Homo sapiens: one gene and its partners. The protein of the gene in region 7 purifies or fractionates together with the protein of the main gene of each other region. This does not show direct contact. Each region holds a gene or a part of one and is shown on either strand. Other genes may lie near its edges. The genes, in order: SNRPA1, CDC5L, U2AF2, ARID3A, USP9X, DDX23 and SNRNP200.

Region 1 (4,176 bases), on a different chromosome or scaffold from region 7:
CCACTCACCACCCAGTACCTTTAAAGACATTATCTATACACCAAGTGCTTTTTTTCCAATAAAGTTTACACAGAGCTGATGAAGGCAGGGTCAAAAAAGATCTCAATTTCAATAAGTAACAGTCTAGAAATTAGTTGCAGTTAAAAAAAAAAAAAAGCAGAGACGCTCAGTCAAAAGTATAATTGTTACCTTTATATATCCTTTTACTATGACCCCTTTGATAATTGTTTTAGAAGCCAAAATGTATACAAAGCAACATGTTTTTATTTAGAAACTTAACCATGAAAATAAAAATACATGATTTCTGAACAGATACAAGTAAGACTAGACTAATGCCAGGTTAATCTCTGGATCTCTATAGGAAAAGTGAAGTTCATTTCTCATTTTAAGAAAAAACATGTATTGAATGTGGCTTCCATTATGGAAAAAATATTTTTTCAAAATATAAATAAAAAAGAAAAAGAAAAAGAAAAAGAAACATGTAGGTTTAACCAGTAGCACGTGCTACAACTTCTTCAGGAAACACTGCAACATTTACTCTAGGGGAAAAAATTACTTTCCCCTACAGACACGTACCATATTCTGTTGTTGTTCACTAACAATGTTTTCAGTCTTCTCAACAAAGGAAAACCATCCAGTTTCCTGATCTCATTGTCAGAAAAATCAATAGCATCAAACTGGTCTAACGTAGCACCTAGATTTTCAATGACGGGAATTTTATACCCTATAAAATGGAGGAAAAAAACACAAGAGGTATTAATATAACTAAACAGTTGCCCCTTAAAGCATTAGCTGTATTTCATAGTATCTGACTCCAGGCTTTGATTTATTCAGGAAGTATTACCTAGCACCTATGTCGGGTCACGCATGACTTGCCGCTGTTTAAGATACTAGAGAGAAAACGCTGAACGAGTCTCAAGTCCCCAGTGCCATGAAGCTTAGAATCTGATGACAACAAGGACAAGGACAATAACAATGGCTGATATAGGCAGCTAACATTTATAAGAACATTTACAAGGTGCCTCACACTGTCCTAAGTCGTTTGGGCTAGTTAAGCGGAATCGGCACAACAGGAGTTTACACTTGGAGCTGCTTAGTCTCAGTGCCCAAACGGCGTTCAAACATTGTGGACGACAGTTCTCCACTCTTGCATCTCCACAGGCCAGATTCTTAGAACCCATCAGAACAGCCTCAACATATCACGACAGTTCTCCCTCCCCTCCCCCAGCTCCAATTCAGAATTGAAGATCAATGGTTTAAATACAGTAATAAATCTGTGAACACTCAAATGTTAATTTGTCTAATTTGGGCATAATTATTGTGTTAGGCACTATAAGAAAAGAAATATTCCGAAGAAGCAAGGTCTACTAAAAAAAGAACTTACCCAAAGTTAAAGGACACAATTCAGAGCTGTACTACACGTACTGCATCAAAATACGTATTCTCAACACTGCACATGCTCCATAAAGAGAAATGGCAGAGATCATCAAAAGTGGTGAGTTGGGCCGGGCGCAGTGGCTCAAGCCTGTAATCCCAGCACTTCGGGAGACCAAGGCGGGCGGATCACCTGAGGTCGGGAGTTCGAGACCAGCCTGACCAACATGGAGAAACCATGTCTTTACTAAAAATACAAAAAATTAGCCGGGCGTGGTGGCGCATGCCTGTATTCCCAGCTACTCGGGAGGCTTGAGACACAGGAATCACCTGAACCGGGGAGGCGGCGGTTGCAGTGAGCCGAGATCACGCCACTGCGCTCCAGCTGGGGCGGAAAGAGCGAGACTCCATCTCAACACAACACAACACAAAACAGTGGGATTTCCCAAAGGTCGGCAAGAAATCTAAGCAGATCCCGCAGCGATGCTGCTCCGAGGCCATAGGTCCCCATGGGAACAAATCTCAGGCTACGACAGCATGGTCTTATCCTCAGAGAAGTTGCTCTATCACGTCCCTTTTAAAGCCGTCTCCTGAAATGCCAACTAGCTAGCTGCCCTCCCAGTATCTTACCAAGTCTTGCTAAGGTTGAAATAGTACAGGAATCTGAATAATTGCGAGCGCTTCCACAACTTACACACAGCACCCGGCGGTGCAAGCCTGGGTGACACAGTTCAATTTTTAAAACGTCTTCATATAGGGGAAACGCCAGACAATTAAAGCTACTAAGTAGAAAATACTGGAGGAAACAATCGCGGTTGTTCGGGGACTTAGTTTCCTCCCTCACATTAGGAATAATGAACACATATCCTATCTACGCTCAAAATATCATCTGGCGGCAAGTATTAAGAACCAATCCCGCGCCCTGCACTTGCGTTACAACCATTAATGAGCCGCTCTTCCGGGCCCTCAAACAGCCAGCGGCGAAACAGCCAAGCAAGGCCTAACAGGGCCCCACGAGGACGCACCAGGAAGTAATGAAGTCACCCGTGCCTGTCAAGAGGCACGGCGCTAACAGAAGGCTCCCAGGAGCTTAACCGGATGCTCATCTGGCAACAACGGCAAGAATCAGGCCCGGCGTTCCCTGCGCAGCCCGGTCGGAGCCCAGACAACCGGCCCGCGGGCCAAGCTCCGGCCTTCGGTGCACGCGGCAAAGCGCGGAAAATAAGGCGGCTCGGTGCCGCCTGGGGACTGGCCGCCCACGCCCCCGGACTCACCCCGGAGGTCCAGCTCCCGGTCGCGCACCGCGTTGGTGTACTGCGCCGCCTGCTCGATCAGCTCCGCCGTCAGCTTGACCATCCTGCAGCCTCCCGTTCCCCCGCGCTGTGGAAAGCCCGTGGCCTCCCGCCAGCGAGACGTCCCAGCGTGCCCCGCGCCCCGCCGCCAGGCAGCACCAATCGCAGCCGCCGAGTGCGCGCGCAGCTCGACCGCCAGGCCGAAGCAATCGAAGAGCCACGCCTCCGGGGGCGTTCTTGCCGGAAGTCGTGGCGCGCGCACAGGGGATGTGTCTCGTTCTGGGTTGTTTCCTAGGGTGTGTTTCGGAGTCTGGAGGACCCCTGATTCCAGACGTTGGTGTTTAAAAGTTAAGGCGAATGTGGAAACACCCGAGGGGAACTTTCTCATGCATTAGCGCACCTCGAGGTGGGAGGGGAAGCGGTGACTGTCCTCCCTCCACCAGCCGTCGCGGGAACCCGTGGGGTTCAGTGAAGGGTCCAGCAGTTCAGGTGCCCGCCCCGGGCCTGGGCCTTGGCTCCGGGCTACAGTGTGAGATCCCGGGCTAGGTGGCCCGCCTGGGGCAGGTCGCCGGGACAACCCCACCGCCCCGCAAGTCCAGCCCGGCCTCGGGCACGGTAGGGTTTGCGGTTAAGCTTGTGACCTTTAGACTTCTGAATATTCATATGTATGAAATGTGATATACATAAAAGTGTGCATATCAGGAATTTACAGTGATTAATGACCAGAGTGAACACAGCTGCGTAGCCGACACCGGGATCCAAAACACCGCTATTCTGAAAGCCTCCCTCTTTCCCAAAAGGCAACCGCGAACTCAACACTACAAATTCGGTTTGCTTGCTTTTGCTATAAATAGAATCATGCAGTATGCTTTTTTTTTTGGCCTAGTTTCATGGAGTCTATATTATGTCTGGAGTCCATCCAGGTTGCATACAGAGATGGTTTGTTTGCTTTTGCTGCTGAAGAGAATTCCATTGTATATATTATACCATAAATTACTTATTCTGCTGTTGATAGACATCAAAGTTGTTTTCAGTTAGGGCTATTCTGAGTAATGCTACTATGAATTTTCTGGTACGTGGTTCTGATGCACGTTTGCATGAGTTTGTCCTGGAGTGGGACTGCTGGGACATAGGGTATATCTATCATCAATAAGTAATGCCCAACAGTTATGCTAAGAGGCTGAAATAATATACACACTCCAGCGGTGTGTAAGGGTTTTCATGGCTTCCAGCTTCAGCCTTCTTGGCATTTTAACTCTATAACTTCAGCTATTCTGATGGGTGTGTGGTGGTATTGCACTACTGCTTTGCTTTGCTTTTCTCTAATAACTAATGAAGCTGAGAACCTTCTCATGTGTATGGTGCCCATTCTGATAGCTTCCTTGGTTAAGTGTTCTTTCGAGTCCCTGGCTCATTTTTTTTTTTTCCTTATGGAGTTGTCTGCCTTTTTTCTTATTGATTTGTGGAATTTCTTTATATATTAGGGATATGAACACACTCTGTGGCTTGC
Region 2 (3,500 bases), on a different chromosome or scaffold from region 7:
AATGTGGGATAACACATTAAAATTTCATGCCATTTCTGAAGGAGTAAATGTAACTCAAAGTAGCTGAGAACTAAACACAAAAAGTATCATCCTCTGTTCCCCACTGAAAAGCACATTTACATGGGTCCCCTCTAAAATATTGTTTCCACTGATGTCATTCTCACTCCAATCCCCTGAGATTCAAGGTCCCTAAAATCATCCAGCAATGGACTGCAGCTACTGAAAGGGGTCATAAAATATCAGTTCTAGTTTAGGATTCACCACTTACCCACCATGAGACCTGAGAAAGTTGAGACCATGAGACCTCAATTCATCTGAGCTTGTTGAGTATTCCTTACTAGAAATATCTGGGCCCAGAGTATCTTGGATTTCTGATTTTTTCAGATTCTGGAACATCTGCATTATACTAACTCTAATCCAAAAAGCTTCAATGAGCATTTCTTTTGAGCTTCATGTCGGCACTCAAAAAGTTTTGAATTTTGGAGCATTTCAGGTGTTGGATTTTTGGATTAGCAATGTTCAACCTGTAATACCGATCCTATTTATATCACTGTGCTGTTACGTGCAAATGAGAAAGTAATTACGTATAAGATATATTAGTACAAAGTGTTACTAATATTATTTTGACACACTCTATCTAAATTTCCAACTCCAGTTTAGATAGAGGTCTTACTATGTTCCCCGGACTGGATTCAAACTCCTGGGCCCAAAGAATCCTCCCACCTCAGCCTCTCGAGCAGCTGAGACTACAGGCTCGTACATCGCACCACCCAGGAACCAAGATGTATTTGTTTTTAAGACTAACCAATAACATCTTTTCTTTGCTAGATTGAAGCAATGTCTAAAAGACTACCTATGTGTATTTTAGAGAAGCATAATGAATTTGACAGAATGTATTTAAATTTCCATATATATATTTTTAAGAATGCTCATCAAAATATTGTGAGTATGTTAATTATGTGAGGATACATTATTAATGACATAAGTTATTTACTTTAGAAGTTTTTTCAATATTAAAAAGGACTAGGTAGAGATCTTGGGACATTTAATGGCTATTCTTCATTCTTCCAGCCTACTGACACATTCAGCCAAACTCACGCTTCTTTCAGTACAGTTACCCACCTGCTTTCGAGCATCCACATCAGCAGCATCTTCAATGTAAGTATCATCTATTTCACGTTCTTCCAGCTCCTTCTCGGCATTTTCTGGTAGAACAATTTCAAAATCATTCTTAGGGGCAGGAAGGCCCAACAACCCTAAACGGAGATGTTCTCGGGATTCTCTTTCCTGTAGAAAAGAAGTGGTCCTTCTCAATTCATGCATATTAAACATTCCACCAGTATTTTATGAGTCTCTTAAAAATTGATAGCACAACAGGGTGACTCTAGTCAAAATAACTGTACATTTTAAAATAACTAAGAATAATTGGATGGTTTCAAACACAAAGGTTAAATGCTTGAGGGGATGAATACCCCATTTTCCACGATATGATTATTACACATGCATGCCTGTATCAAGATATCTCATGTACCCCATAAATATACACACCTACTATGTATCCACAAAAATTAAAAATTACAGAAAGAGAAAAAAAGTCTCAAAAAAAATCAGCCTAATATTAATTCTAGAAAAATAATCCTGACTTCAGAGCTAAGACAAGTCTTATGTTTATTTTCTATCCCCCCTTCTTCCCAACATTAAGACCAACCAAAAACTTTCACTTGTGATCACTGAAGATACTCTGGGATATTCCAACAGGAGGTCTGAGGCCAGGGCAGAAAAAAAGACCACTTTGAGGGAACACATTTCTGACACCGAAAGTTAACAGCAAATGAAAAGAACAGGTTCAAAAGTTAGTTTGTCCTTGGACTAATAAAATCCACTCTAAAAGATACTTGAATTTGTATGTATGTGTTTATTTTTAATGGAAATACTAAATCCCATGCAGAAGAAAGAAAGTAGAGTCCTGGTTCCCAAAAAAGCCTCCTGGTACCCAGAGTTTTCCCATCCATCCTCAGTGCTTACATGTACCAGGTGTGAGGAACAGATGAGTTGCTATATCTAAAACATCCTCCATGCTTACTCATATTGTAGTCTCCATCTGAGACAGCCCCCACCCTCCTTCAGAACATAGCTCCTCTAATAAGGCTTTCCTGTTACCCAACAAATGTGACTATTCCCTTCTTTAACTACCCTAAGCACACTGGTTTTACTCAAAGGGCTTATTCTGTTCTGATATTGCAATTATTTTTGGACTTAGTTTAGTACTGTCAATCTCCCCAGAATATAAATTTCCTTAGGACAAAGGACATCTTTATTCAACTTTAGATCCCCTCAAATGTCCAAATGCATGCTCTGCATGCATGAGGTTCTTAATCTATTTAATTCTTATGTATCCATTCAGAGTTGGCTTTAGTTGATATCAATTTGAACTTTAAAAAACATATATAAATCAACCAAATATATACATGAGGTTAGAATTAATTTTAAACTGAAGACAAGCCAGTATCATTAGAAGTTTTTTTTTTAATTTCACAATGATTTCTGTGGCATTAGATAATAAGGCCCAATAGCAAAGTAATAAACGCAGTAACACGGGCAGAAGCAAAACTTAACTTTTTACAGTTAGCTTTCTACCTCAGCTTGCTAAAGAAAACTTCAGTGAAATCAACAACGAACATCAATATTCACAAACCTAGTAAGCATAAAGAAAGGTGGGTTTTGAGCCCAAAATATTCCCTTTCATCAAGTCTTACAAATAATTCTTTTTCTGGCATCCACAGGTGTATAGATTCTTAAGGTATATGTGATATGCACTAACAGGAGAAATTTTAATTTGGCATCCATGAGATATTAAAAAAAAATTTAAGAGTATTAAAAGGGAATTGACATTTACCATCTGCTTCACGTAAGAGGGATCACTATAGTCTGCCATTCCATCCTCGGGATTAATGTTTAACTTGTCTCGAAGAGGAGTTCTACCCGGAGTAGAGTTAATAACTGGTTTGGGAGTTGTTCCACTCCGGGGAGTCAGCCCTTCAGCTCCATTAGAAGGAGTCCTAGAAAGACAGGAATCCCAATTAACAGAAGTGCCACTTACATTTGGATTGTGCTTTCAAATGTTTTTCACATAAATTATTTCACAGGAAATATAGAAAAAAAAAAGAATAAAGATTTCAAAATTCTGTCCAGCTGGTTTTGTTAGGATCTCTAGGTTAAAATCAATGTTTGGTCTAGCTAGCATGGTATTTTTATTTTACTGACTTACAATAATCACTACATTTGATATTTTCTTGCCTTCCTAAACTACGTCCACTAAACATTATTTCAACCTTTTCTTGGCACATTAGGGCGACTAAGAACATGCAGTGGGCAGGGAGGTGGGCCACCACACTCAATGACCCCAGATGACTCTTTGAGTTTTGTGTATATTTGTCTCCTCCCTCCCTATCAAGCTGTTGGTTCTCACATCACTATCACTGTCATTATTACAAATGTAC
Region 3 (3,500 bases), on a different chromosome or scaffold from region 7:
GGGTTTTGGTAAATTCAGCTAACCTTTTGGAGCCTGTAATATATGTTGACATGCTCCCAATCGACATGGACTTTTTACGTATGGGTGCGTTTCCCCGATCAAGCTGCAGAATGTCTTCCCCACGTCTCTTCCTGGTGAATCCACTGCGTTTTCATTCATTTTAAGTCCCATGAGTGGCCCGCCACTTGCTGGTGCTTAGTGTGTGTCAGGCGCTGTCCTAAGTGCCCTCCATGCACGGCAGTTCTACGACACAGGGATTGGCGCTGTCCTAAGTGCCCTCCATGGACGGCAGTTCTACGACACAGGGATTGGCGCTGTCCTAAGTGCCCTCCATGCACGGCAGTTCTACGACACAGGGATTGGCGCTGTCCTAAGTGCCCTCCATGGACGGCAGTTCTACGACACAGGGATTGGCGCTGTCCTAAGTGCCCTCCATGGACGGCAGTTCTACGACACAGGGATTGGCGCTGTCCTAAGTGCCCTCCATGGACGGCAGTTCTACGACACAGGGATTGGCGCTGTCCTAAGTGCCCTCCATGCACGGCAGTTCTACGACACAGGGATTGGCAGGTTACAACTGAGAGTCCAACGCTGGCCCACTGCCTGTTTTTTGTTTTTTTGTTGTGTTTTTTGAGACGGAGTCTTGCTGTGTTGCCCAGGCTGGAGTGCAGTGGTGTGATCTCGGCTCACTGCAACCTCCGCCTCCCAGGTTCAAGCGATTCTCCTGCCTCAGCCTCCCGAGTAGCTGGGATTACAGGCATGTGCCACCACACCTGCTAATTTTTTGTGTTTTTAGTAGAGATGGGGTTTCACCATGTTGGCCAGGCTGGTCTCAAACTCCTGACTTTGTGACCTGCCTTGGCCTCCCAAAGTGTTGGGATTATAGGCGTGAGCCACTGCTCCCGGCCACTGCCTGTTTTTGTAAGTAAAGATGGATGGCGGTGCAGCTGGCCTCACTGTGCAGCGCCTCCTTCCTGGGTAGGGACGTGTGGTGGGCCTTGGGGAATAGGAACCGTGGGTTATGGATCTAAGGTTGCTTCTCTTACCAGGCTGAGGAGCTTGACTCTTCTGAAGGTGATGGGGTGCTCTGGCAGGGGCTGAGCTGAGGGCAACCCAGTGATAGTGGCTGCCGAGCTCCTCTCAGGCGCCCCCTGCACCAAGATGGCCTGGTCACCATGGGAGGGGACATTGCTCCATCTTACAGATGAGGAAAGAGCTTCGGGACAATGGGGATCCCTGCTGGGTCTTCCCCACACAGCCTCTGCTCCAGGTGTGATGCTTTGTAGATGCAGCCGCTGCAGAGGTATGGGGCCCTGTTTCCCCGCCCAACTCTTGGAACATCCCTGCCAAGCAGGGCTTGTCCTCAGTGATGAGTGGAGGAACTCAAGACTCCGAGAAGATTCCTTTGAAGTTGTTGTCATGTAACAGCGGCTGACCCCACTGACAGTGCTCACAGTGTGTGTCTGGGCTGGGTGGGTCCTGTTGTGGGCATTGAGTCTGGCAGATGCCCGGGCCATGGGGACTGCCGTGCCTGTTCTCACGTCCTCGATTGAATCAGCACTTGGCCTGAGCTGTTCTCACACACGTGGCTCACACGATGGGCACCAGGGTTCTTCCCATTCTACAGATGAAGACACTGAGGCCCTTGGAGGCTCATATGGTACAAACAAGACTTGAACCCAAGGAGCCATGAACCCAGGGAGCCCAACTCTTGTATCCTTGGCTCTGTGTTGCTCAAGTGAGACGGGCAGAGCCAGGGCTCGCGGCTGAGCTTCCAGTGTGACCCATTCTTCCTTGGACCCAGGCAGAGCCTGCAGCCTGCCATGCTGCCTGTGGGGAGTCACAGCTGAGTGTGGGCTCTGGAGGCTGCCTTTTTCCTGCCTGTGTGTCTTTGCTCTGTGCCTCAGTTTTTGCCTTCTGTGCTGTATGTATAGCATTGCAGTAGGAGGTTGAAAGTCTTACAGGATGCCTGGCCCATGGGGTGAGTGCCCGGTGTGTGTTCCTGCTCCCGGGCTGCTGCTACTTGTCCCTGTAGCATAGGAGCTGGGTCTCCTGGGGTCTGTGTGGCCCCAGTCTGGTGGTTGGAGCTGGCTGGGTTGGTGCTTCCAGTTCTGTGGGGGCAGCGTCATCATGGGCTGGAAGGGCTTGAGTGAGTAGGTGGGAGAGGGTGTGTGGGGGCATCTCCCCTCCTTCCATGGGCACAGCGGCTCATGCTTCTGAGGCTCTTTCCCATTTCCTGTCTTACCTATTCCTTCCCAGCATCAGGATGGAGGTGGGATGGGGCCACTCACACTTGGTGTGGAGGCTGCAGAGGAAGGGGAGGCCATATGGCCTAGGTTTTGAACTTGGGAGTCAGGCTGGTTGGTTACCGGGGCCTGGCATAGCTGATATCTGACAGGACGGCGTCAAGTTACATTGGCAGAGCCTGTGGGGTCTCAGGTTGAATCATCCCACCAGCAGGCACTTGTCTGTGAGTCCAGAGTTCAGTGGATAGGGCAGGATCGAGGGCCAGTAAATTCAGCTGATAAGCCCCCACTCTGGTATGTCAGCCCTCGAAGACACTGGATCCTGCATCCCACAGTCAGCCCACAGTTCCCAGTGAGATCAGAGCAGCTAATGCTGCGGATGCTGTTCTGAGACTTCCCGGGCAGCCGCGGCTGCTCATCGTGTCGTGCCACCCCTGTGAGGGCAGTTGCACCCCTGCAGTGGCACCTGCAGTTCTGACAGGGCGTGAAGGGAAGGGACTGAGCTTTTTTTTTTTTTTCCTTTGAGATGGAGTCTCACTCTGTTGCTCAGGCTGGAGTGCAGTGGAGTGATCTCGGCTCACTGCAACCTCCGCCTCCTGGGTTCACGCCATTCTTCTGCCTCAGCCTCCTGAGTAGCTGGGACTACAGGTGCACGCTACCACAGCCCGCTAATTTTTGTGTTTTTAGAGAGACGGGGTTTCACCATGTTGGACAGGATGGTCTTATCTCTTGACCTTGTGATCTGCCCGCCTTGGCCTCCCAAAGTGCTGAGATTACAGGCGTGAGCCCCCGCGCCCGGCCGGGACTGAGCTTTAATGGGAGCCTTGCCTGGGTGGCTGTCAGAGAAGGGGTGGGGTGTGTTGTGACTCACCAGTAGGTCCCGAGCCCAGGTGACCTGCCAGCATTCCACAGCAGCAGGTAGCAGATGTGGGTGTGAACTTTGTGCCTTTGGAGCGTTCTGGAGGATGTTCTAGTTTGAGGTTCCCCTGAGGCTGGGCAGATTTGGGAGACATGGTGCGTTCTCCCCGAGGAGCCTCTGTGTGCCACTGCCCAGGACCCTCACTGGTCAGATAAGGCTGGGGTGGGGTGGGCACGTGGCGACCCCTCCCTCGTCAGATCAGGCAGGAAGTGTTCTCTTTGGCAATTGAGGAGCTCGCCGTAGACTGTCCAGGTTTTGGGAGATAACCTGGTACTGGAATTGAAGTCCTCCTCTTCTCTACCCATAGGGGTTGTGTCCACTGTGGTCCCCGACTC
Region 4 (3,500 bases), on a different chromosome or scaffold from region 7:
GCGGATCACAAGGTCAGGAGATCGAGACCATCCTGGCTAACACGGTGAAACCTTGTCTCTACTAAAAATACAAAAAATTAGCCGGGCGCGGTGGCGGATGCCTGTAGTCCCAGCTACTCGGGAGGCTGAGGCAGGAGAATGGCGTGAACCCGGGAGGTAGAGCTTGCAGTGAGCCGCGATCGCGCCACTGTACTCCAGCCTGGGCGACAGAGCGAGACTCCGTCTCAAAAAATAAATAAACAAATATATAAATAAAATCCTACCATGGTGGGGTGCGGTGGCTCACGCCTGTAATCCCAGCACTTTGGGAGGCCAAGGAGGGCAGATCACCTGAGCCCAGGAGTTCTAGACCAGCCTGGGCAACATAGCAAGACCCCGTCTCTACAAAAATTAGCTGAGTTTGGTGGCGCCCGTCTGTACTCGCAGCTACTCAGGAGGCTGAGGCAGAAGGATCGCTTGAACCCAGGAGATCGAGGCTGCAGTGAGTTAGGACAGCACCACTACACTCCAGCCTACCCGACAGAGTAAGACCCTGCCTCAAAAATAATAATAATCCAATAAAATCCTACCGTGGCCGCTTTCTAGAAGCTGGGCCTGCTGTGTGGGTGACAGGAGGCCACCAGGAGGCTACGTCAGACATCAGGAGGCTGAGATCCTAATCACTGCCCGACACGTGCTGGCCTCCAAAACTGCACGTCCCCAGGCCCCAGGCAGCAAGGTTCCAGGTGTCCAAGGAAAGAACCCGTGGCCCTGAGCCTGCTGCGCCCGGCCCCCCGCCGCGGCCTGGCCACCCACCAGACCTGCAGCCGACAGCAGAATTTCACAGCTGTCGAGGATTTGCAGGCGGAAGTTAGCCCCGAGCCCTGCCAGGACCTGGGAGGAAGAGGCAGAGACGGTGCCAAGCGGCCGGCCAGCGGGCCAGGCCTGCCACGTGCCAGGAAGGGGGTGGGGCAGGCGCCAGAGTCAACAGGGGCCCCAGTAGGGGCCGGGCGGGAGGTAACACTGACTGGGCTGGTTGGGCCCAGGCCACTGTTGACACTGGGAACACAGGTGTCTGGCCAGCTGGGCGGGCGGCGGCATCGGCGGCTGGACCTGCCACGAACAGCCCAGGATAAGATCCCAGGACTGGCTGGGCACCGTGGCTCAGGCCTGTAATCCCAGCACTTTGGGAAGCTGAGTGAGGCAGATCACTTGAGCCCAGGAGTTTGAGACCAACCTGGGCAACACCGTGAAAGCCCTTCTCTAGAGAAAAAAAAGTCACAGGACTGCAGGGCGGGGGCCTCCCCCCACCCCCGCTGCCCACGACCATCCCTAGGCCCTCATCTTCTCGGAGTTCCAATCCCGTCTCCCGCAAGACCCAGAGGCGGCACCCGGTCCCTACACACAAGCCGAGCTTTAGTCCACCTCAGGGCCTCTGCACTGCCCGGTACACCCAGGGGGCAGGTGCGGGGCGGCAGGATCTCCAGGAATACCTGAGGCTGCCGGTGACACAGTGACCCCCCTCCCTGCACTGGCCTCAGTTTCCCCATCTCGGCTTCCCGCTGCAGAAAAACCCCACATGGCACCTACAACCCTGACCCGCGGTGTCGCCCAGACAAGGTAGACAGTGGCTTCTGCCTCCTGCCTTCGCTCAGGACATGCTGCGGGCTGTGGGGTCAGGGCGCCTGGCCCCTCATCCCTGCCTGGTCTGGGCCAGTCACCCCAAAACTCCCCCATCGGCTTTGGGCCTTGGAGGCCGGGGCTGTCTGGGCGGGGCGTGTGTCCAGGGTCAGGGGGTCCCATTCACCTCTGACCCCCGAAGGACCGACTGAATGGGGGGCCTTGACCCTCCCTCTCGGCTTGGCTATAACCCTGCGGGGATGGAGGTCTCCGTCCGGCTCCTGCCCGCCCCTCCAGCCCAGGGCTCCCTGCGGGCTGAGTCCCGGGCAGATGGCGAATATTGGGTGAATGTTAAATTAATTGGTGAATTAAATTAATGAAATTAAAGAGAATCCACTCTCAGCATGCTCATCCGTATCATCTTAAACCCAGAAAAGATCACAAGACCCCTCCTCCCAACACTGAGCCTCTGTTTTCTCACTGGCAGAATGGGACGCGCGGCAGTGTGGCCCGTGGAGCATCCCCTTCTGCAGGAGTGGGAAACTGAGTCACAGAGCAGGGTGGAATCAGCGAGACGCCCCCCCCCCCCACCGAGTCCCCGCCGCTGCCCTGGCCATTCTCCCACACCGTGTCCGGCTTTCAGCTCTTTACTATTTGTGAGTTTCCAGGCAGCCCAACCTTAAGTCTCTTGAGGGCTGCTGGGGTTAGGGCCGCCCCTTAAGCTACCCGGCACCCCTGGAGTCAGGAGCCCCGGGGAGGCCCCCCTGGGTGTCTGTGCCTTGGCCCCTCCTAGGAGGCTCCTCAGAGCGGATTCTGGAAGCCCAGGGCCGAAGGGGCTGCCCCGAGGCAGGCATGTCCCAGCGTGTCCATCATCCACCTCCCTGCGGGAGCCCAGACCAGCTCCAGCCCCGGGCGAGGAGGTGGCTCCCCCCAGCCGCGCCCAGAGGTCGAGGCAGAGCCCAGCTGGACGAGGGCTGGAATGTGAGCCTGGCCACCATCTGGTTTCCATCTGCCCGGCCCAGCACGGCCCAACTTCAAAGCATCCCCCGCCCGGCCACTTCCTCTGGCCTGGCCGCCTGCGGGGAAAGGCTGGGGCGGCCCCTACTTCCTCCTTCAGCCTGGGGTCCCTGAGACCCCCTGCCGGCCCCAGCCTTAACCGCCCACTCGGAGCCTCACAGGCCCTGGCTCCTGCGTCTCCTGCAGCCACACCTGAGCCACCCCCACATCCCCTCGGCTGCCAGCTGCAGCCCGCAACCCCCCACGGCTCTCCACAGATGCCAGGGGACAGAGGAGGCCAAGTCACCACGTCACCAAGGCCCCGGCCTCTCTGCCCGCATCGCCCGCAGGCCTGGTTCCTCCAACCCAAGCCCAGCTCGGGCCGGCGCCAGCCTCTCCCTCCCAGGCCCACCTTTCCATCTCTGCCCCATCACCTCCGATATGGGGGCCGTGGAGCCCCCCAGGTTTCTCCTACCCGGCCGGGTGCTCCTCACACATCCCACATCAGAGCAATGAACAGCCAGCTGGTCGAGCCCACGCCCAGGAGGGAAGCACAGGAAGCACAGCTACCGCAGGAACCCCCAGCTCTCAACTCGACGCCCGGCTCAGCACACACCCCGTGCAACGTGGGCCTTCAAAGGGCCCCACTGGCCCAGGAGCAGGTGCCTCAGCCGCCACGCGGGACGCGCCCACTCACCTGCTTAAACTGCTCCTCGTAAGTCCAGTCGCCGTGGTCAGGCGGCTGCAGCTGCGGGGCTACGTGGGCGGCCCCTCCGGGGTGGGCAGGGCCAGGCCCCGGCCGCTCCTGGCCCCCCAGCACCCTGGGAACGCCATCGCCGCGGAAGGCCTGGGGTGGCTGGGCCTTTCGGGGGAACAGTGCCGTGGTGCCCAAGCTGGCAGGGCCT
Region 5 (3,500 bases), on a different chromosome or scaffold from region 7:
TTGAATATGATTTTTATTTTGTATTTTACTTTAAAAAAGGTACTATACCAATATAAATAGCATTTTGGAGTGAATTTTGATATGAAGGCTTTTTTCCAGAAAAAAAATAAAGTGCATTGTGGCATTTTTGTTGATGCTTTTAACAAAATGTAAAACGACCTTTTAAATGTAAAAGGTAAACTCTACCTTCTTTTTTTGAATTTTTTTTTTTATTAATACAAGGTCTACCTATGTTGTCGAGGCTGGTCTTGAACTCCTGGGCTCAAGGGATCTTCTTTGCTTGGCCTCCCAAAGTGGTAGGATTACAGGCATGAGCCACTGCGTCCAGCCAACCTTTTACATTTAAAAATAGTCTTAGTGAGTTGGGCTTTTACAGCATAAAAATAAGCGTTATATCTTGGATTTAATTTCATTTTAGTAGACACCTCATTTTCTGCAACCATAGATACAAGACTAACAACAATAGAATATGATTATGTTTTTAAATATTATTTATATTTTTAGTTAAAAGGAGCAATATTTTTTTTTCTTTTGCATTTCACTCTTGTTGCCCAGGCTGGAGTGCAGTGGTGCAGTCTCGGATCACTGCAACCTTTGCCTCCCAGGTTCAAGCGATTCTCCAGCCTCAGCCTCCCAAGTAGCTGGGATTACAGGCGCCCACCACCAAGCCTGGCTTATTTTCTGTATTTTTAGTAGAGATGGAGTTTTACCATGTTGGCCAGGCTGATCTCGAACTACTGACCTCAAGTGATCCACCCGCCTCGGCCTCCCAAAGTGCTGGGATTATAGGCATGAGGCACCATGCCTGGCCTTATTTTCAAGATACTGAAAGTAATACAGGTTGAGTATCCCTAATCCAAGAAATCCAAAATTTGTCTGGTCCCAGACATTTCATATAAGGGATTCTCAAGCTGTATTAAGTATCTTTAATTCACATCCTCTTGTTTAATAAGAAAATACTTAGTGTTAAATCCCCAGCATTATTTTCTTGGCAACAAAATTTCAGAGTCTGCTGAATATGATGATGTCTGTCTTTCTTTTTCCCCCCAGAGCATTCCGCGGTAAACACCTCTCTTTTGTAGTTCGATTTCCAAACCAGGGCAGACAGGTTGATGACTTGGAGGTATGGTCTCATACAAATGATACAATTGGTTCAGTACGACGATGTATTCTCAATCGTATTAAAGCCAACGTAGCCCATACAAAAATTGAGCTCTTTGTGGGCGGTGAGCTGATAGATCCTGCAGATGATAGAAAGTTGATTGGACAATTAAACTTAAAAGATAAATCGGTATGTATGTATAGTTAACAGATTTTTCAATAAAATCAAACCAGAGACTATCGTTTAATCAGTAAATACTAATTGAGCATTTGTTATGTTTGGGACTGTGTTAGGTGTTAGAGTTATAGCATTAAAGTATAGCATGTAGTCTTTCGGATTTTTTGGTTGGTATATCACTAAGTTTTGTGTTTTGTGTAAGTATTTTTCCTTGTTTTTGATATTAACATAGTATATAATTTTCAGCTTATTACAGCCAAACTTACACAGATAAGTTCCAATATGCCTTCAAGCCCTGATAGCTCTTCTGATTCCTCCACTGGATCTCCTGGAAACCATGGTAATCATTACAGTGATGGTCCCAATCCAGAAGTGGAAAGCTGTTTGCCTGGAGTGGTGAGTAGATACAGTTTTGAACTACTGTATGTAAGGCATCATGCTAGGGTTTTTGAGAATAAAGTATATAGAGTGGTTCTTTCTTTTCTTGAGGAGCTTACAGTTTAATGAGACAAAAAAATACAGTTAACCACCAACTTCAGAATGGATCCCTCTAAAAGGTAATTGTAACACAGTTGGAATTTAAAACATAATTTCCCCATAGGTATAGTATTGTTACTTTTACATAAAATTAACCAATTAGAGCTTAATTATAACACTATTGGATGTATAAATTTAGAGGAAAACAGTCATCCCTCGTATACGTGGAGAATTGGTTCCAGGACCTCTGCATATACCCAAAATGCTGCAGATGACCCTGTGCAACCAGATATACAAAAAGTTAGCCTTCCATATACTTGGGTTTTGCTTGCTGGAAATACTGAATTTTCTGTCCACATTTGATTGGGAAAAAAGTCTGCATGTAAATGGACCTGTGCAGTTCAAACTTGTGTTGTTCAAGAGTCAGCTGTATCACTTTCTAAAATTTATACCACAAAACGGATAGTTCTTTTAGAACTATATATGAGCTGGGCATGGTGGCTCACACCTGTAATTCCAGCTACTGGGGAGGCTGTGAGGCAGGAGGATTGCTTGAGCCCAGGAGTTCTAGGCTGCAGTGAGCTGCGATTGTGCCATTATGCTCTAGCCTGGTCAACAGAGTGAGACCCCATCTCTAAAAATATAAATAAATGAAAACAAGAACTATGTAGGAAAATACCTGTAATCTTTATCAGATTGTCAGTAACATATAGCCAAAGAAATATTTTTAAGCTCTCCTTTCGCCCCTCCCGACAGAAATTTTAATGGTTACAATAGTAGCAGCCACTCCAGTGTCAGGAGGATTTGGCTCTCTATAACAACTGGATTAAGAATTTGGTAGTGGGCATGGCAGCCTTTTGTTATGTCCAGAGTCTAAATTGTATATATGAGAGAAATGGTTTAATAGAACAGGAGAGGAGCTATCACAAAAAAATGACTGGAAGTGACTTGATGATGTATTTGATCTGCACTATTAAGGATTTGTAGGGATTAAAAGATGGGAAAGTCAGACTATTTCAAAGAGTAGAAATTTCATAAGTAAAAGTATAGGGATTAACACAGAGAAACTTACTTGGGCTTTTATAAAACGGGAGTAAATAATTTAGAGGTAATTATTTTGTGTATTTTATATTCTAGATAATGTCACTGCATCCCAGATACATCTCTTTTCTTTGGCAAGTTGCAGACTTAGGTAGCAGCCTAAATATGCCACCCCTTAGAGATGGAGCAAGAGTACTTATGAAACTTATGCCGCCAGGTAAGAATTTTTAAATGATGATCAAGTACTTGCTGGACAATAAAGGAGTATATTAGCAAATTCTGTTTCTAAATGGACCGTGCTTTTTGGTATAGACTATAACAAGAGTTGACAGATGACAGCCCACAAGCCACATCAAGCCCCCTGCTTGTTTTTGTGCATCCCAAGAGCTATATTTTTAAGTGGCTACAAAAAAAAAATCTAGAAGAATAATATTTTGTGATACATGAAAATTATATGAAGTTTAAATTTTAGTGTCCATGATCAAAACCAGGCTCATTTGTTTACATTCAGTCTACATGACTGCTTTTGTCTTAAAATAGCACCGCCCAGGAGTTGTGGCAGAGGCCATATGGTTCACAAGCCTAAACTGCTTAACTTTCCTGGCCCTTTACAGAAAATGTTTGCCTATACCTGGACTATAATATGGGTCATGTGTCATCTGCGGTATTGTTCCTTTTTTATCCTTAGAAACAACCACTTCCA
Region 6 (3,500 bases), on a different chromosome or scaffold from region 7:
GGAGGGAGGTGGGGGGGGTTAGCTCCCCACCCGGCCAGCCGCCCCGTCCAGGAGGGAGGTGGGGGGGTCATCCCCCCACCCGGCCAGCCGCCCATCCGGGAGGGAGGTGGGGGGGTCAGCCCCCGGCCCGGCCAGCCGCCCTGTCCGGGAGGTGAGGGGCGCCTCTGCCCGGCCGCCCCTACTGGGAAGTGAGGAGCCTCTCTGCCCAGTCAGCCGCCCCGTCCGGGAAGGAGGTGGGGGAGGTCAGCCCCCCGCCCGGCCAGCCGCCCCATCCGGGAGGGAGGTAGGGGGGTCAGCCCCCCGCCCGGCCAGCCACCCCGTCCGGGAGGAAGGTGGGGGGGTCAGCCCCCCGCCCGGCCAGCCGCCCCGTCCGGGAGGGAGGTGGGGGGGTCAGCCCCCCGCCCGGCCAGCCGCCCCGTCCAGGAGGTGAGGGGCGCCTCTGCCCGGCCGCCCCTACTGGGAAGTGAGGAGCCCCTCTGCCCGGCCAGCCGCCCCGTCCGGGAGGGAGGTGGGGGGGTCAGCCCCCCGCCCGGCCAGCCGCCCCGTCCAGGAGGTGAGGGGCGCCTCTGCCCGGCCGCCCCTACTGGGAAGTGAGGAGCCCCTCTGCCCGCCCACCACCCCGTCTGGGAGGTGTACTCAACAGCTCATTGAGAACGGACCATGATGACAGTGGCGGTTTTGTGGAATAGAAAGGCGGGAAAGGTGGGGAAAAGATTGAGAAATCGGATGGTTGCCGTGTCTGTGTAGAAAGAGGTAGACATGGGAGACTTTTCATTTTGTTCTGTACTAAGAAAAATTCTTCTGCCTTGGGATCCTGTTGATCTGTGACCTTACCCCCAACCCTGTGCTCTCTGAAACATGTGCTGTGTCCACTCAGGGTTGAATGGATTAAGGGTGGTGCAAGATGTGCTTTGTTAAACAGATGCTTGAAGGCAGCATGCTCGTTAAGAGTCATCACCACTCCCTAATCTCAAGTACCCAGGGACACAAACACTGCGGAAGGCCGCAGGGTCCTCTGCCTAGGAAAACCAGAGACCTTTGTTCACTTGTTTATCTGCTGACCTTCCCTCCACTATTGTCCTGTGACCCTGCCAAATCCCCCTCTGCAAGAAACACCCAAGAATGATCAATTAAAAAAAAAAAAACCCAAAAAAAACAAAATCTGGTGGCAGATGCCTGTAGTCCAGCTACTCAGGAGGCTGAGGTGGGTGGATCACCTAAGCCTGGGGGAGTCAAGGCTGCAGTAAGTTGTGATCACACCACTGCACTCCAGCCTGGGCAAAAGAGACCCTGCCTCAAAAAAATAAATAAAAATAAATAAGAAAGAGAGCTCTGTAATAACTACCAACAGAATCTGTTAAGAGAAATCTACTTTCTTTCTTTCTTTTTTTTTTTTTTTTTTTGAGACAGAGTCTTGCTCTGTCGCCCAGGCTGGAGTGCAGTGGCGTGATCTCGACTCACTGCAGGCTCCGCCTCCCGGGTTCACGCCATTCTCCTACCTCAGCCTCCTGAGTAGCTGGGACTACAGGCACCCGCCACCACGCCCGGCTAATTTTTTGTATATTTAGTAGAGACGGGGTTTCACCATGTTAGCCAGGATGGTCTCGATCTCCTGACTTCGTGATCCACCAGCCTCAGCCTCCCAAAGTGCTGGGATTACAGGCGTGAGCCACCACGCCTGGCGAGAAATCTACTTTCATAAGAAGCTGAGCAAACTCAGGTGCAGAGAAGAAATGGGAGCATTCCCCTAAAGCCCCCTCTCATTCCTTCATGTACCTGGATCGTTTACGGTCCTTGTCCCGTCTGTGCCCATCCTTGTCTCGATCTCGGTCCTTCTTATTCCGATCCCGCTCCTTATCTCGTTCTCGTTCTTTGTGCCGTCGTTCTCTGGAAGACCGCAAATTTAAGAGTTCACTTGGTATTTCCAAAGTATCTTGCTTCACTGCAGCCCTGAGAAAGTTCCTATACTCTCGTCCCAAAGTAATGTTTTACAAATTAGAGAATGTATCTCTCACGGAAATAACGAGGGAATTCTAAGAAGCTTTTATAGATCAGAGATGTACTGTTAAATATTAACGGCAATGACAGGTCACGGACTATGTGAACAGATGAACCTTCCTTTTTTATTTTTTTGAGATGGAGTCTCACTCTCACGCCCAGGCTGGAGTGCAGTGGTGTGATCTCGGCTCACTGCAGCCTCTGCCTCCCGAGTTCAAGGAATTGTCATGCCTCAGCCTCCCGAGTAGCTGGGATTACAGATGTGCACCACCATGCCTGGCTAATTTTTGTATTTTTAGTAGAGACGGGGTTTTGCCATGTTGGCCAGGCTGCTCTCAAACTCCTCACCTCAAGTAATCCACCTACCTCGGCCTCCCAAAGTGCTGGGATTATAGGTATGAGCCACCGCGCCCGGCCACAGATGAACCTTCCTTGATAACCCGGACCTTCACCTTACTAGTTCCCTCTCAACTTTTTTTTTTTTTATTTTTAGTAGAGATCAGGTATCACTGTGTTAGCCAGGATGGTCTCGATCTCCTGACCTCGTGATCCACCTGCCTCGGCCTCCCAAAGTGCTGGGATTACAGGCGTGAACCAACCGCGCCCGGCCCCCTCTCAACTTTTAAGAGTTGGGTCACTGAGGAAAACTGAAAACACCTGCAGGTCCAACTGGGCTAGGAGTAGATTAATGTACAAAAAGTAGATGCCTAGCCGGGCGTGGTGGCTCACGCCCGTAATCCCAGCACTTTGGGAAGCTGAGGTGGGTGGATCACCTGAGGTCGGAAGATTGAGATCAGCCTGACCAACGTGGAGAAACCCCGTCTCTACTAAAAGTACAAAATTAGCCAGGTGTGGTGGCACATGCCTGTAATCCCAGCTATTCGGGAGGCTGAGGCAGGAGAATTGCTTGAACCTGGGAGGCAGAGGTTGCAGTGAGCCGAGATCGTGCCATTGCACTCCAGCCTGGGAAACAAGAGTGAAACTCCATCTTTTAAAAAAAAAAAAAAAAAGGCCAGGCGCGGTGGCTCACGCCTATAATCTCAGCACTTGGGGAGGCTGAAGCAGGCAGATCACGTCAGGAGATCGAGACCATCCTGGCTAACACGGTGAAACCTCATCTCTACTAAAAATACAAAAACATTAGCCGGGCATGGTGTCGGGCGCCTGTAGTCCCAGCTACGCACTCAGGAGGCAGAGGCAGGAGAATGGCGTGAACCTGCGAGGCGGAGCTTGCAGTGAGCTGAGATCGCACCACTGCACTCCAGTCTGGGTAACAAACAGAGCGAGACTCTGTCTCAAAAAATAAAAATAAAAAGTAGATGCCTAATACTGGAGGCATCAGAAGAACCAAGAAGGAAGAAATCTGAAACGTACTCTCCCTTCCCATGTAATAACATACAAAGTTACTTTACCTTTCTGCAGATTTGGAACGGGAACGAGAGCGAGAACGGCTGCCTCCTCGACGTCTATCCCTTGAACGATGCCGCTTTCTATCTTTAGAT
Region 7 (3,500 bases):
GCTGGGGCAGCTTTTCTTTAATACACAAACTGAGGAAATGACCCTGCAAATTTCAGGGCTTAGAAAGCCTTCATACGGAATCACAGATGAAATGCTTCTTGGGAAATTCACATGACACAGCGCCACGTCATACCTGCTCTGCCAGGGCCTCCATGGGGGTGATGTACACACAGCGCCCCTCCGAGCTCTGCAGCAGCATTCGCAGGATGGCAAACTCTGCACAAATAGTCTTCCCGCTGCCCGTGGGGGCCCCCACAAACACGTTGTCGTCACTGTTGTATACAGTGTTAAACACTGGAAACCAACAGAAAGAAGCAGTGTAAGTATCAAGAAGGAAGAAGAGACGGACTGGGACATGGATCAATTGTCAAAACAAAGGACAACATACGAAATGAAGTCAGGCAGTTCTGGAGTGCAGACAGAGGAGCTAAGGCATCCAAGCCTCTAACTCCAGGCCAGCCCTACTGTACCCCCTTACCTGCTCCCACTTAACAGTTAAAGGGGAAGAGGCCAAGATCAAGAGCCCAGGTCCCCTGGAGATGTGTGGGATGACAACAAAAGCAAAGCAAAAGAAGCCACACATTCTTCTTTGCTTCTCAGGGACTAGGATGCGGGACAGAAAGGAACTGGATCCCTTTCTCTGCCCCTTCAACACTCTCCTGCGTTTCCTAGAAATAGCCTAAGGTAGAAAGTAAGAGCCTTATCCCTGGCATCAAGACTGAATTAAAATCCAAGTTCTACTATTTATCAGTTGGTTCAACTGGGGAACCCTCTATGCCTCAGTTCCTCACCTATAAAAGGAACACTAATGGCAGTATCTCCAATAGAGATTCCTTTTAGGCTTGATGGGAGGAATAAGAGAGAAAACACCGGTGATGTACTCAGCCATGGACTGAGGAAACAGTGCCTGCTCTGTGAATGTCCCCGTTATTTATCATGATGTGGTGAGGAGGCTTCAGTGCCACCCCATGGTTCTGGTTCAATACTTGAGCGCCAGGGGCAGGCCTCTAAGCCTCCTGGGCCCGAGAAATGACCATGCCATGTAAGGCCTTGCTCTATTGCCCCTCCACAGTGACACATGCAGAGCAGCAAAGCAACCAAAGGCTTCTGACAAAGGAAAAAGTCCTGGTGGGTCCCAGCGGTCACACTGAGGAGCTCCCAGACCTCCCAAGTGCCTGAGCACCCCCACTCCCCTGCCTGCCACAGAGCACATCTGTCTCCCGGTGACTTCAAAAGCCTCCAGAGGAGGGATGGAAACACTTACCCTGGGTCTGGATGGGATTGAAGAAAGGAAATTTATCTTGGTAAAGACTCTCAAAGGCACTGTTTCTCAGAGCAGACACGGGCAAGGGCTGCAGGTCCAAAAGTTCGGTTGGAGGGGGGTACTTCTCCGGCAAGATCAGGTGCCGGAAGGAGACAGGCAGCTGGGTCTCACAAGCTGCCAGAAAAGAAACAGGAAGGATATAAGCACTGCTCTCTTTCCCTCACTGGCCTCTAGATCCCCTCCATGAACACTGGAAACCTAGGCAGCATATGTATCACTCTGTCCCCAGCAAGGGCAAGCCCGGGACAAAGTGCAAGACATTCTTCTACTGTCCTTGGAGGGACTGTTCCTGGGGACTCTGGAGAGGAGACACTCACAGAGCCAGCGGTCAGACACCACTCGGATGAAGTACTGAGGGGGCAGCGGTTCAAAGACAGGCACGAAGAATGTAATGAGGTGCTCGTCCTGGGCGTACTTGGCCTTGAGGAGAAAATACTCATGGTGCAGAATCACCTCGCTGTCCACATCCTCCACCAGAATCCAAAAAGCCTCGGATGAACCATGCACCTGCCAACAGGAGCAAGGGTAAAAGGAATGTGAGTCAACGTAGACTGAGTGCCTCCAATCCATCTCCTCGGCCCAGCAACGTAGACTGAGCACCTCCAATCCAGCACCTCTGCCCAGCAAAGCCTCACCTTTTCATCCCACTGGAAGTCTGGCGTGATGGTCAGCTCCACCTTCAGGGTGGAGCGTGTGATAGGCTGCAGGTGCACTGACAACTCCAACTTGGGAAACAGATGGACATATTTGTGGATGGTCTTCCCCATCTTTGGCATGCGGATAAGCTCCCCTACAAGGAAATGAGAGTACTGAGGCTGCAGCCCAGCCTGCCTACTATACTGCAAACTGGGCCTGAGGGCCACTGTGGGAAAGGGGTAGGGTCTTCCCTTTATGGTCAGTGGAGCCCAGGATTCCAAGTCCCCAGACCAAGGGCCAGCCTGTACTTCAGTGGGACTTGGGGAGTGAACACAGGATACTAATGCACAGGCCTAGGAACAGGAAGACTACATAGGCAAACTGGGAGAGACACCCAGGCAGTGAGGACAAGGGCGAGAGCATCCCACACACCAATCTCATTATGATTCAGGTCGTACAGACGCTCAAAGGGGAAATTCTTCTTCTCAATCTTCTTCACTACTTCCTCAGGGAGTTTCCGGAACTGGCGCAGAGGACACATGGACTGCCACCTATCCAGGAAGGAGGCAAAGCTGTTGGTCCCTTCTGCAGGGATGTGACAAACCACCCACTTCATGGCTTCCAATAGTTTAGCAGTGACTACACAAAACACAGTCATTAAAGGCAGACACTGACACTGTGCCAGCCCTGGCCTCCACCACAGAGGGCCTTCCCTCTTCTCAATGTGCACCAAGGTTCAGGTCATACTTCCGATGTCAGGTCTGGAGATCAGATGCACCCTGAGGCTTTCCCATCAGACCCTTGGGTTGGGGACCCCCACTCATGGTGACCAGCATCCAGCTCACTGGGTCCTTACATGCGTTTGTCGATCATCTTGCAGAGGTTCAGGGTCTTGTCTGTAAGCTGTGCCCAACCTCGGTTCAGGACAATTTCAAATATCGCTCGCATCAACCGGCCAGCCGACTAAGCAAAGAAGCAGCATTCCCACTGTTAAGTCTCGACTATCCCCAGGCCTCATGAGCCACTCTACACACGGTTTCATTACCTCCAGCTCTGACACAACCACCCACCCTAACTCAAAGGCAAAGTCCCCTCTGTCTTTACGCCTTTCTCCGTTCCATATAGTAGATGCTTGCCGGATGGGGAACAATTAGAAGAGTGCTGCGGCTCAAGGTCACTGCACAACATTTTAACCTAACATTCACTGCATGATTTTAAAGCTTTTGAGTCATTTAGCATTTAGAGTTCTAGGAAGAGTTGAGGGTACCAGTGACCTGTTCTTAGAGGTAAAGATGAAGAGCAGCTAATAAAACCCTGTGCCATTTTTGGATTTATTTATGAGCTGTGCAGCAACAGTGGGAAATCACTTTGCTGCTGGGAAGCAGACACTGCGTGCTGTGGCTCTTCCTGTCTCTCTGAGGGCCCGTGGAGCCTCGAAGCATTCCCTCTTAAGGTCTTACCTTTCCCACGTGCTCAAGATGTATACTACAGAGTGGCTGTACCACACATGCACCAACCAACTACCCGGCAAGAGCAGAAC

Evidence for each region.
Region 1: the proteins of SNRNP200 (region 7) and SNRPA1 fractionate together in Homo sapiens (co-fractionation; 3 studies listed by BioGRID). This does not show direct contact.
Region 2: the proteins of SNRNP200 (region 7) and CDC5L fractionate together in Homo sapiens (co-fractionation; 4 studies listed by BioGRID and IntAct, with this or other methods). This does not show direct contact.
Region 3: the proteins of SNRNP200 (region 7) and U2AF2 fractionate together in Homo sapiens (co-fractionation; 3 studies listed by BioGRID, with this or other methods). This does not show direct contact.
Region 4: the proteins of SNRNP200 (region 7) and ARID3A purify together in Homo sapiens (affinity purification with mass spectrometry; 2 studies listed by BioGRID, with this or other methods). This does not show direct contact.
Region 5: the proteins of SNRNP200 (region 7) and USP9X fractionate together in Homo sapiens (co-fractionation; 2 studies listed by BioGRID). This does not show direct contact.
Region 6: the proteins of SNRNP200 (region 7) and DDX23 purify together in Homo sapiens (affinity purification with mass spectrometry; 5 studies listed by BioGRID and IntAct, with this or other methods). This does not show direct contact.

The regions. Positions count from the first base shown.
Region 1 is NC_000015.10:101,292,449-101,296,624, forward strand, and holds the start of SNRPA1 (U2 small nuclear ribonucleoprotein A'), read right to left. Parts: upstream 2,801-4,176; 5' UTR 2,731-2,800; coding exon 2,649-2,730; intron 725-2,648; coding exon 577-724; intron 1-576. UniProt on the Homo sapiens protein: Involved in pre-mRNA splicing as component of the spliceosome. Associated with sn-RNP U2, where it contributes to the binding of stem loop IV of U2 snRNA.
Region 2 is NC_000006.12:44,422,206-44,425,705, reverse strand, and holds part of CDC5L (cell division cycle 5-like protein), read right to left. Parts: intron 3,060-3,500; coding exon 2,897-3,059; intron 1,288-2,896; coding exon 1,123-1,287; intron 1-1,122.
Region 3 is NC_000019.10:55,665,035-55,668,534, forward strand, and holds part of U2AF2 (splicing factor U2AF 65 kDa subunit), read left to right. Parts: intron 1-3,472; coding exon 3,473-3,500. UniProt on the Homo sapiens protein: Plays a role in pre-mRNA splicing and 3'-end processing. By recruiting PRPF19 and the PRP19C/Prp19 complex/NTC/Nineteen complex to the RNA polymerase II C-terminal domain (CTD), and thereby pre-mRNA, may couple transcription to splicing.
Region 4 is NC_000019.10:932,535-936,034, reverse strand, and holds part of ARID3A (AT-rich interactive domain-containing protein 3A), read right to left. Parts: coding exon 3,293-3,500; intron 1-3,292. UniProt on the Homo sapiens protein: Transcription factor which may be involved in the control of cell cycle progression by the RB1/E2F1 pathway and in B-cell differentiation.
Region 5 is NC_000023.11:41,168,945-41,172,444, forward strand, and holds part of USP9X (ubiquitin carboxyl-terminal hydrolase 9X), read left to right. Parts: intron 1-1,050; coding exon 1,051-1,291; intron 1,292-1,525; coding exon 1,526-1,675; intron 1,676-2,893; coding exon 2,894-3,014; intron 3,015-3,500.
Region 6 is NC_000012.12:48,842,164-48,845,663, forward strand, and holds part of DDX23 (probable ATP-dependent RNA helicase DDX23), read right to left. Parts: coding exon 3,411-3,500; intron 1,888-3,410; coding exon 1,777-1,887; intron 1-1,776. UniProt on the Homo sapiens protein: Involved in pre-mRNA splicing and its phosphorylated form (by SRPK2) is required for spliceosomal B complex formation.
Region 7 is NC_000002.12:96,285,047-96,288,546, forward strand, and holds part of SNRNP200 (U5 small nuclear ribonucleoprotein 200 kDa helicase), read right to left. Parts: intron 2,924-3,500; coding exon 2,817-2,923; intron 2,512-2,816; coding exon 2,393-2,511; intron 2,115-2,392; coding exon 1,960-2,114; intron 1,832-1,959; coding exon 1,642-1,831; intron 1,439-1,641; coding exon 1,265-1,438; intron 295-1,264; coding exon 134-294; intron 1-133. UniProt on the Homo sapiens protein: Catalyzes the ATP-dependent unwinding of U4/U6 RNA duplices, an essential step in the assembly of a catalytically active spliceosome. Plays a role in pre-mRNA splicing as a core component of precatalytic, catalytic and postcatalytic spliceosomal complexes.